Linked DNA regions of Homo sapiens. The protein of the gene in region 2 interacts with the protein of the main gene of each other region in a pairwise test. Each region holds a gene or a part of one and is shown on either strand. Other genes may lie near its edges. The genes, in order: ZNF76, MORN3 and SOX5.

The links.
Region 1: the proteins of MORN3 (region 2) and ZNF76 interact in binary tests that used the Homo sapiens proteins (3 or more experiments, as listed by UniProt).
Region 3: the proteins of MORN3 (region 2) and SOX5 interact in binary tests that used the Homo sapiens proteins (3 or more experiments, as listed by UniProt).

What each region holds. Positions count from the first base shown.
Region 1 is NC_000006.12:35,290,495-35,293,609, reverse strand, and holds part of ZNF76 (zinc finger protein 76), read right to left. Parts: intron 2,970-3,115; coding exon 2,894-2,969; intron 2,333-2,893; coding exon 2,207-2,332; intron 2,053-2,206; coding exon 1,873-2,052; intron 1,071-1,872; coding exon of another isoform or gene 1,057-1,070; coding exon 823-1,056; intron 730-822; coding exon 566-729; intron 1-565. UniProt on the Homo sapiens protein: May be involved in transcriptional regulation.
Region 2 is NC_000012.12:121,648,242-121,650,448, reverse strand, and holds the end of MORN3 (MORN repeat-containing protein 3), read left to right. Parts: 3' UTR 1-1,707; downstream 1,708-2,207. UniProt on the Homo sapiens protein: Assembles a suppression complex (suppresome) by tethering SIRT1 and MDM2 to regulate composite modifications of p53/TP53.
Region 3 is NC_000012.12:23,544,101-23,547,840, reverse strand, and holds part of SOX5 (transcription factor SOX-5), read left to right. Parts: intron 1-1,416; coding exon 1,417-1,525; intron 1,526-3,740.

The DNA.
Region 1 (3,115 bases), on a different chromosome or scaffold from region 2:
AACAAAATGGGTCCAAGGTTGCAAAGAGAGGCCACACTAGAAGAATTCCACTGACTACTTCTATTTATCACCACTTTGCCTCTGGGCCCTGTTGTATCCAGCTCAGGGTCGCCACCTGATTGTGTCCTAACAACTCTAGAAAGCACAGATGTACTTTCTAGCAAGGGTACGGACAAGGGTCAGGTTATATAGCTAGCTAGTACACTAGTAGGACCAGACCCCAGGCTTTCAGACCCCATACCATGTTCTGGCTGCTATATGAACATGCCTCTCTTGAGAAGGACATCCCATATCCTGTTCAGATGAACAGGACCTGTCAGCCTCCAAGTAAAGAGAGAAACTACTAACTGTGCTCTAGAAGCCCCAGAGACTGAGCTGGAAGCACAGGAGGAGGAGAGGCTGTGCTGCAAGATGTGGTCTCCTCAGCCTCAGCCTCTGAAGTCTATAAAACTTAAACAAGAAGCTGGGTGGCAGTGGGGCTGTCAGAACTTCAGGGCTCCCAGAGTCCCCAGAGAGAGTGGAGAGTGCCAGCTAGTATGGCACCTCTGCCCTCCAGGGCCTGTACCTGCTGGGCACCATCCTGAGTGATCAGAGCCACCTGGGGGGCCCCATCTTCTTCAGTCACCATCGCCACCTGGGCTGGGATGTCATCTCTCTCTTCCTTCACCTCCGAAAGGTAAGCTATCCGGGGTCGTTTGGGTGGCGGACTCTCCTCGGCTGCAGAGGCGGCTGGGAGAGGAGAGCCAAGGCTGACATCTGCTACCAGATGCCATGGGGAGGCCTGGCTTGTCCCCACTCTCACCCTCTGCCCACTCCCCTTACCCTCAAGTTGCTGCTGCTCATAGAGGGCCTGCTCGCTCTCCTCCGTGGCCTCCAGCTCGCCGTGGGCACTGCGCTTGTGCATGGCCAAGGTGGAGGTCTGCCGGTAGGTCTTGCCGCAGGTGCTGCAGGTGTAGGGCTTGCAGTGTGTGTGCACCACGTGGTGCTTATACAAGCTCGAGTACTCGGTGAAGCGTTTCCCGCAGCCTGGCACCGTGCAAACGTATGGCTTCTCCCCTGGGGACACTGGGCTGTGAGGGGGGTGGGAACTGGGGCTGGCAAGGGGGAAACTAAGGGGACAGGGGTGAGGGACAGGGTTGGTGAAGGGAGAGCCAGAGGGAGGGAGAGGGACTGAGACCTGAGACTCTGAATGGACAGGGTTGGGGAAGATGGCCAGTGGAACACAGAGAGGACACAGGTGTTGAACCACTGAATCCAGAGACAAGGCGGAAAGGAAACGGGGGACAGGGCAAGGCTGGGGCTAGTGAAGGGGCTGGTAGGGGGCACTGGGGCTTATAAGGTTGAGGGTGGGAGGTTGAGAATGGTGAACAGCAGAGGCAAGAGGCAAGGATGACTGAAGTATCAGTTGTGATGGGAAAGAGGGGACACACATGCTGAGACACAACACAGAAAGCTGGATGAGGGGCATAACACTGGGGAGGGTGAGGATACACAGGAGTCATGGACGGCGGATAAGGTGAGGAGTTGAAGGTGACAGTTCACTCTGCTTCTTCCCCATCATTCCTGACCCTGGCCTCTTTTCAAGAGTTCAGTCAGAGTTGGAGAACTCAGGGTGGGTGTAGAGGGGTGGTAGGGAGCTGAGGGACCCCAGAGAGGACTGGCAATACCTTTCAGATTGGACCTAACTGGAAATTGAGGAATTACTCACTGCAAGCAGAGTTGTTCTGGGGATACCCTACCCCCAGACCAGCCTGGAATGGCTGGCACAGAAGGGTTCTGGGCTGGGAGTTGGGAATGTGTCTTAGATGGGAAGCCTACAGTAGAGGGGTTGGGGCCTGAGTGAGGGTAGTCCTCGCATGCCAGCTAGCCCACCTGTGTGGATGCGCACGTGATTCTTATAGTTGGTGGCGCTGGTGAAGCCGCGGCCACAGTGGGGCTCCGGGCAGGTGTAGGGCCTCTCGCCTGTGTGGGTGCGCACATGTACCTTGCGGATGTTAGATGTGGTGAAGGAGCGGCCACAGCCCTCAAAAGGGCACTGGAACGGGCGTTCACCTATGCAAATGGTGGGATGTGAGGAGGGGTGTGGGAAAGAGGGCCATGCTGGAGCAAGCTGGGGATGGCACTGGGCTCCAGGTCTAAGTCTGAAAGGCAAGCTGAATTCCTTTTGCCCAGGGAATGGGGTTGGAGTGGGCAGGGCCCAGCATACCAGTGTGGGTACGGACATGCTTCTGCAGGTCTCCTGAGGTCTTGAAGGCCTTGCTGCACAGCTCCTCTGGGCACTTGTATGGTTTCTCACCAGTGTGGGTACGAACGTGGCTCTTCAGTCCATAGCCTGTCCATATGTGGCAGGCAGGGGGTGAGATGAGCACCCAGTGGGGTCTCATCCTCCACCGTCCACCTCATGCACAGGCTCTCCACCTCCTTTGGCTCAAGAAGCCCATGTCTGCCTCTATCCCACCCCTGCCCTGGGCAGGGGCTGGAAAAGCCCACTCTGCCCTGCTTCCCTCTCCAGGAGCAGTTGGAGCCATACCAGAACATGAGCATGAAAAGAAACTTAGAGAACTCATGGCTAAAGGTACTAGTTTCACAGAGGGGAAAATAAGCCCAGAGAGATGCAATGGCCCACCCAATAATCCACAGCTGGTTGGCATCAGAGCTGACACAAGAGGCTGGGTCTCTCCACCAACCCTCCAGGCTCCTTCTGCTGGCCTGAACCATGCTGCCTTGCACTCCCGTAACAAGGTTTCCTCCAGAGAGAGCACCCTGCAAGTCAGAGTACTCTGACGGTAGTTTCTCCAGGAAAGCAGCCTGGTGTTGGGTTCCCTTCAGAGAGGTCCCAAACAGAACGAGAACCCTCCACCCTCAACTGGAAGCAGCCCACCAGGCAGGTTACCTGTGGCAAAGGCCTTTCCACAGCTGGGGAAGTCACATCTGTATGGACGGTCACCTGTATGAGCTCGTTCATGCACCTGTGAGGACAAGCAATCACATAATTCAGAGGAGCAAGGGTATGACCAGGGCTCTTTGGTTTTCTTTAGGACCCTGATTCTCTTCCCTCCTGTACCATTCATGTGTGTCAAGCGCTCTGTGCTGGCATTCCTGTGTACCCTCATTT
Region 2 (2,207 bases):
GTTCAAGCGATTATCCTGCCTCAGCCTCCCAAGTAGCTGGGATTACAGGCACCTGCCACCAAGGCTAATTTTTTGTATTTTTAGTAGAGACAGGGTTTCACCATGTTGGCCAGGACGGTCTCGATCTCCTGACCTCGTGATCTGCCCGCCTTGGACTCCCAAAGTGCTGGGATTACAGGTGTGAGCCACTGCTCCCAGCCAAGATCAGATGTTCTTGCATAATGGGCAGGTGAGCTCTGGAGTCACAGTGCCTGGGCGTGAATCTCGGAGCTGTGTGTTCTCAGGAATGTCACCCAAACTCTGTTCTGTTGGTCTCCTCACTTGCAATATGGGGCATTAACAGTACTTACCACCTGGGGTTACTGTGGTTAGTTACTGTGAGGATGAGATAAGGCGGTGGTTTTAAACTGTGGGTAGGATTTTGTCCTCCCTCAGCCCCACTCTTTCTTGGGGACATTTGGCAATGTATGACATTTTTGATGTCACAACAGGCAGGAAGAAGGCTACTGGCATTGAGTGAGTAGAGACCAGGGATGCGGTTAAGCATAGTGCAATATCACCATGCTACAAAAAAAAAAAAAAAAAAGAATTCAGCACCTGTAATCCCAACTACTTGGGAGGCTGAGGCAGGAGAATTGCTTGAACCTGGGTGGCAGAGGTTGCAGTGAGCCGAGATTGCGCCATTGCACTCCAGCCTGGGCGACAGAGCGAGACACCATCTCCAAAAAAAAAAAAAAAAAAAATGTTGAGAAACCCTGAAATACCACGATTCTAGCTAAGACCTCAGCAAGAGGCACATAGCACATAGTAAAGCCTCAATAAACACCACTGACCTTACTGAGGTTCTCTCTGCCCCCTAAGTCATAAGTAGGGTGGCCTCACCAAGGGTGTGGTTCTCAGTCTGTACCTCTGGCACTGGGAAGCCCCGCCTGGCCACCCTAGGATGCAGAATTAATCATAACTTCCAGATATGGAGCACTCACTCTATTCCAGGCCGTGTGCTGACAGCTTCGCAGCAAGCATTCTCTCCTGGCACTCCCCGACAACAGTGAGGTGTCTTGCTATTACTGCCATTTTAGAGGAGGAAACAGGTTCAGGGAGGATCACAAGTCATCAAGCTAGTACTGTGCTTAAACTTAGGTCTAGCTGTTCTTAATGTGCAGAAGAGTGTAAAGGGTTACCATTTTTAAAGAAAAAGTGGGGGCAGGGCATGGTGGCTCATGCCTGTAATCCTAGCACTTTGAGAGGCCGAGGCAGGCGGATCAAGAGGTCAGGAGTTCGAGACCAGCCTGACCAACATGGTGAAACCCTGTCTCTACTAAAAATACAAAAATTAGCTGGGTGTGGTGGAGTGCATCTATAATCCCAGCTACTCAGGAGGCTGAGGCAGGAGAATCACTTGAACCCAGGAGGCGGAGGTAGTGGTGAGCCAAGATCACGCCGAGCCGAGATCGTGCCGCTGCTCTCCAGCCTGGGCAACAGAGCGAGACTCCATCTCAAAAAAAAAAAAAATGTTGGAAGAGGGTGTGCTTGTTTATGTACAAAATGTCGCTAGATTTAAACACAATAAACTGGCAAAGATGGTTGTCTCTGGGGAGAATTGGGGACTTGGGAACAGGAGCTGAAGAACAACTTTTCAGTGTTGTGTTTGGAACCATGTGAATGTATTATGTATTCAAAATGTAAATAAAAATGAAGTTAAAGAGACTGTGCTCCTAACTAGGAGTGTTTGTCTAAGTTGCCTGGGTGTGAGAGCACCTGGGGTGCTTGTTAGAAATAGATTCCAAAGACACACCCAGACCTACTTAAATCAGAATCCTCCAAGGGCTTCGAAACCTGCATTTGACAAGCCTGGCTGATGAGTCGAGTCCCGGCCAGTTTAGGAACAAGAACCCAAGACAACAGGATCCTAGCCCAGAAATAATTCCAGCTGGATCTTGCATCCCTACAGAAGTAGGGAGGTGGCTGTCCTAGGGGAATACGTAAAAGATGTCCAGGACGGCCGGGTGCGGTAGCTCACGCCTGTAATCCCAGCACTTTGGGAGGCTGAGGCAGGTGGATCACCTGAGGTCAGGAGTTGGAAACCAGCCTGGCCAGTGTGGTGAAAGCCCATCTCTGCTAAAAATACAAAAATTAGCCGGGCGTGGTGGCTCATGCCTGTAGTCCCAGCTACTCGGGAGGCCGAGGCAGGAGAATCCCTTGAACCC
Region 3 (3,740 bases), about 98 Mb from region 2:
TCGAGTCAGATTCTACAGTTTTAAATGCGTAACTTATTTCAACTTTAATACTATTTAATTCTATAGAACTAAAGTTAATATAAACTATTTTGTCTCCAGTTTCTCTACTGTATTTTATACTGATTGACAATTTAAAAATAGTTTTCTATTAAATAATGTACATAATTTGATGAATAGAGTACAGGAGTTCCAAGGCCACTGACTTAAGAGATTTTTTAATTTAGTATGTACAGTTGTCACATTGTCAGAGACTTCATTGAGATAAAGCATGTACTGTGTTAAGAATTTCAATATCTCATTAGTTCTTGGTGGGAACATTAGTTGGGCCCTTTACCTGTAATACAATTATCTTACATCATTGATTACTTTCTGTGAACATTTTATTGTGTCAATAGCAGTTCTGCAGTGTATGTCGTTCACTAGTATGATTCATGACTATGTTCCTCAGAAAATGAGGTGAATAATTATAAAGAAACTTGAGATAATGTTATGAGATCCAATGGATGCATTTCTTAAAACTGTTTTGGTGCTGTTTGGTACTACATCATCCTCAGAGCAGTGCTGGAGAGTTCACGAGAAAGTTATCAAGTTTCATTATATGCTTTTTCTGTTCCTAAAGTCACCCAGTTTCTTAATTTGACAGTAATGTCTCATATGGTTTAGATTAAGCATTATATTTTTCTTAAAAATAATTTATTTTGAAATGCTATGTTCTCCATGAATGTGAATCGTGCACTGCATGCTTAAACAACTTGATGTCTCTGTAGATCTAATTTTGGTATATTTGTATCTCAAATAATTCGCCAACTCAATATTTTGGCTTAGCAATCCAAATCAAATTGTGGTCCAAGTAGCAGGCACTCACATTGGATGTACAGAGACTTGACAAGCAATTAGCAATGAATATTTAAACGTCTTCATTACCCTTGCATGAGGAATGCAGATGGCATTTGGGAAGATGGCAACCAGAGGGCACTACTGTGAATTATGTTTCTATTATTTGGTCACCTGACTATTGGAAGACTTTCTCTGGGCTTCACGCCACTCCTATACTTCTACTGTCTGGCCAAAAATAAAGCAGACATTCCAAATGTAAAACAGGTTGCTTCCATGAAATTTCTGTGCACATTTTGTAATTTGGGAAGGTTGTCTCCAAGGATCCCGGCATATATCCCTTAGGCATACCAAACCCAAACGCCAAGACTTTATAGGGGTCTATGAGAATCAGAGTTCCTTCAAAAATCGTGCTGATCATCCCCTTAATGACTTCAGGTTAATGTGCTGAACGTAAAAAGGTGAATATATCAACATTGCATCCTTTCCAGGAGTTAATGTATTATATATGTGGCCCAAAAAAAGAAAGTCTTCAAATAATTTTAATTCCTAGACTGATCTCTCATTATAATTTTTTTAAAGGAAAAAACAACACTGGAGAGTCTGACTCAGCAACTGGCAGTTAAACAGAATGAAGAAGGAAAATTTAGCCATGCAATGATGGATTTCAATCTGAGTGGAGATTCTGATGGTTTGTGAAAATTGTTCATACATATTCTAATAATGCAAGAAAGTGTCTAGGTAGTGCCAATTAAAACTGCTAAAAAATAGACTAGACAGCCACCTCATACCTCATCATTACAATAAGAGGTCACATATACTGAGCAGTCCCCATGTGCCAAGCACTCTGCTGAGTGCTTTGCAGAAATCGTCTCATTTAATTCCTAGTCAACCTAGGATAAGTCCCATTGCAGAGAAAGAGCCTGAGCCTCAGGAGTTTTGAAGCATTTTCCCCAGGTCACAGGGCTCTAAGTGTCAGAGGCAAGAATTAAATTCGAGATGGCATGATTCTAAAGCAAATGCTCAAAATGCTTAGCTTCCCAGGCTCAAGTGATCCTCCCACTTTAGCCTCCCAAGTAGCTGGGATTATAGGTGCATGCCAACATGCCCAGCAATTTTGTTTTTTTTTTTTGAGATGAGGACTTACTTACTATGGTGTCCAGGCTGGTCTCAAACTCCTGGGCTCAAGTGATCCTCCCACCTCAGCCTCCCAAAGTGCTAGTTTTATAGGCGTGAGTTACTGCATGCGGCCTCACTTCCCTATTTCTTGTACCCAAAATGAACTTTTTCAGAAATTTGTTTCTATTGGCTCATTTTTTAAGTTTCTATTTGTCAAGCCCTCACCAGAATACATGGCTCAGAGGACATTTCCACGATAGTTTCTTACATTTTGGAACCCTTCTCCCTAGTGCTATGTACTACATAGTCAAGTGTCGGGCCCACTCTCTATAACCTAACTAGAAACCAGCTGCACAGCTTTATGCTCCCTTCTCATAGGCCTTCAGACTTCTGTTTTCTGTATCATCTCTGAACATTCTAAACATCCACAGTGAGAAGAAATTAAATTGATACTCTGATTTTTAATAGCGTAGCAAAGAGGGAAAAAGAAGGAAGTGCTGTTCTTCTTATACAATACCCTGACCGGGAACATCTCTCTACTGTCAGGTGGCATCCATGCATTTTAAGCATTCCTTTGGCAGTACCGCCCTCAACTTTGTTACTACTACAGGGAAGTTCCCTGCATATAGAGAAGAGTGCACAAAGGCAAACCAGTGAGATGCATACTTTGAGAGGGGGTCCCCTTGAATCCTCCAATATACACAACTGTTTACTCTGTGCCTTGGGCCAATTCTACTTTTAAGACCAGGTCTATACTAATCAAGGGACTAAACAAACCTGAACGTTGAAACACGTAATTCTATCAAAACTGAATTTTACTCAATTGGATTCAATTTGCATTTTTCTGGGTCTAATGTTGCAAACATTTTCTTCTATTTTCAGCTCCACTTAGCTAAGATAAACCTAGCCTATGTACATTTAAAGAGCTTGTTTAGATTTGATGAAGACACATAATGTTCATTTTATTGCTTATGTTGCTGTAAGGTGTAAGAACAAGAAAAGGCAGATGTGCAAATGATCACTTGCTAGTTACAAACCCATTTTAGGAAGATGTTGCCATATATTTGCACTTATTTTGTCAATAAAAGACAATTACGGGTAATAACACATTTCATAAATTTTAAGTTGTATTAGCATGATAAAATATACCCACAGTAATCAGCATTAACACATCAAAGTTTTTGTTGCTGTCATTACCTAAATTCAATCATGCTTGTATGTGAAATATTTTCTACTTTTCATTAAATCAAAGAGCATGTTATTAATGAAAAATATTGAGAAACTTCACCAACAGGTATGCTATGTTTTGAATGTGCTGCTATAGAGGTCTTCAAGTTTGGGCAATTTTGTTTGATTCCTGTGTCTCCAAATTTAAAAATAAAGAAAAGATGAGGAATGAATACAAAGCAAGAAAAGAAAAGCAGTGCTTTTGTTGATAATACAGTCTCTACAAGTCCCCAAAGTATTTTTAAAGTTTTGGATACTATCAAAATACATCTACTTATTTTGTGATAATACCCAGTGAAAACCTACTGTCAGAGTTCTACTGGTTCTCCTTATTTTCTCTTTGCCTAAACTCAAGTATCTTGGAAGCAATTTAATCTGCTGAAGCCATTCTAAGGGGTCACATAAGGCTGGAGGAGTGAATGCAGCTTCCAAAGCTATCGTTGTTAACTCTTGAATTGTGTTTTATCATCTGTGAATCTTACTGATTGAAATGTGACTGTCCATGGGACTCTTTGGATAACTTTAAATATTAGGGGGAAAATTCAAAGGAAATTATTATT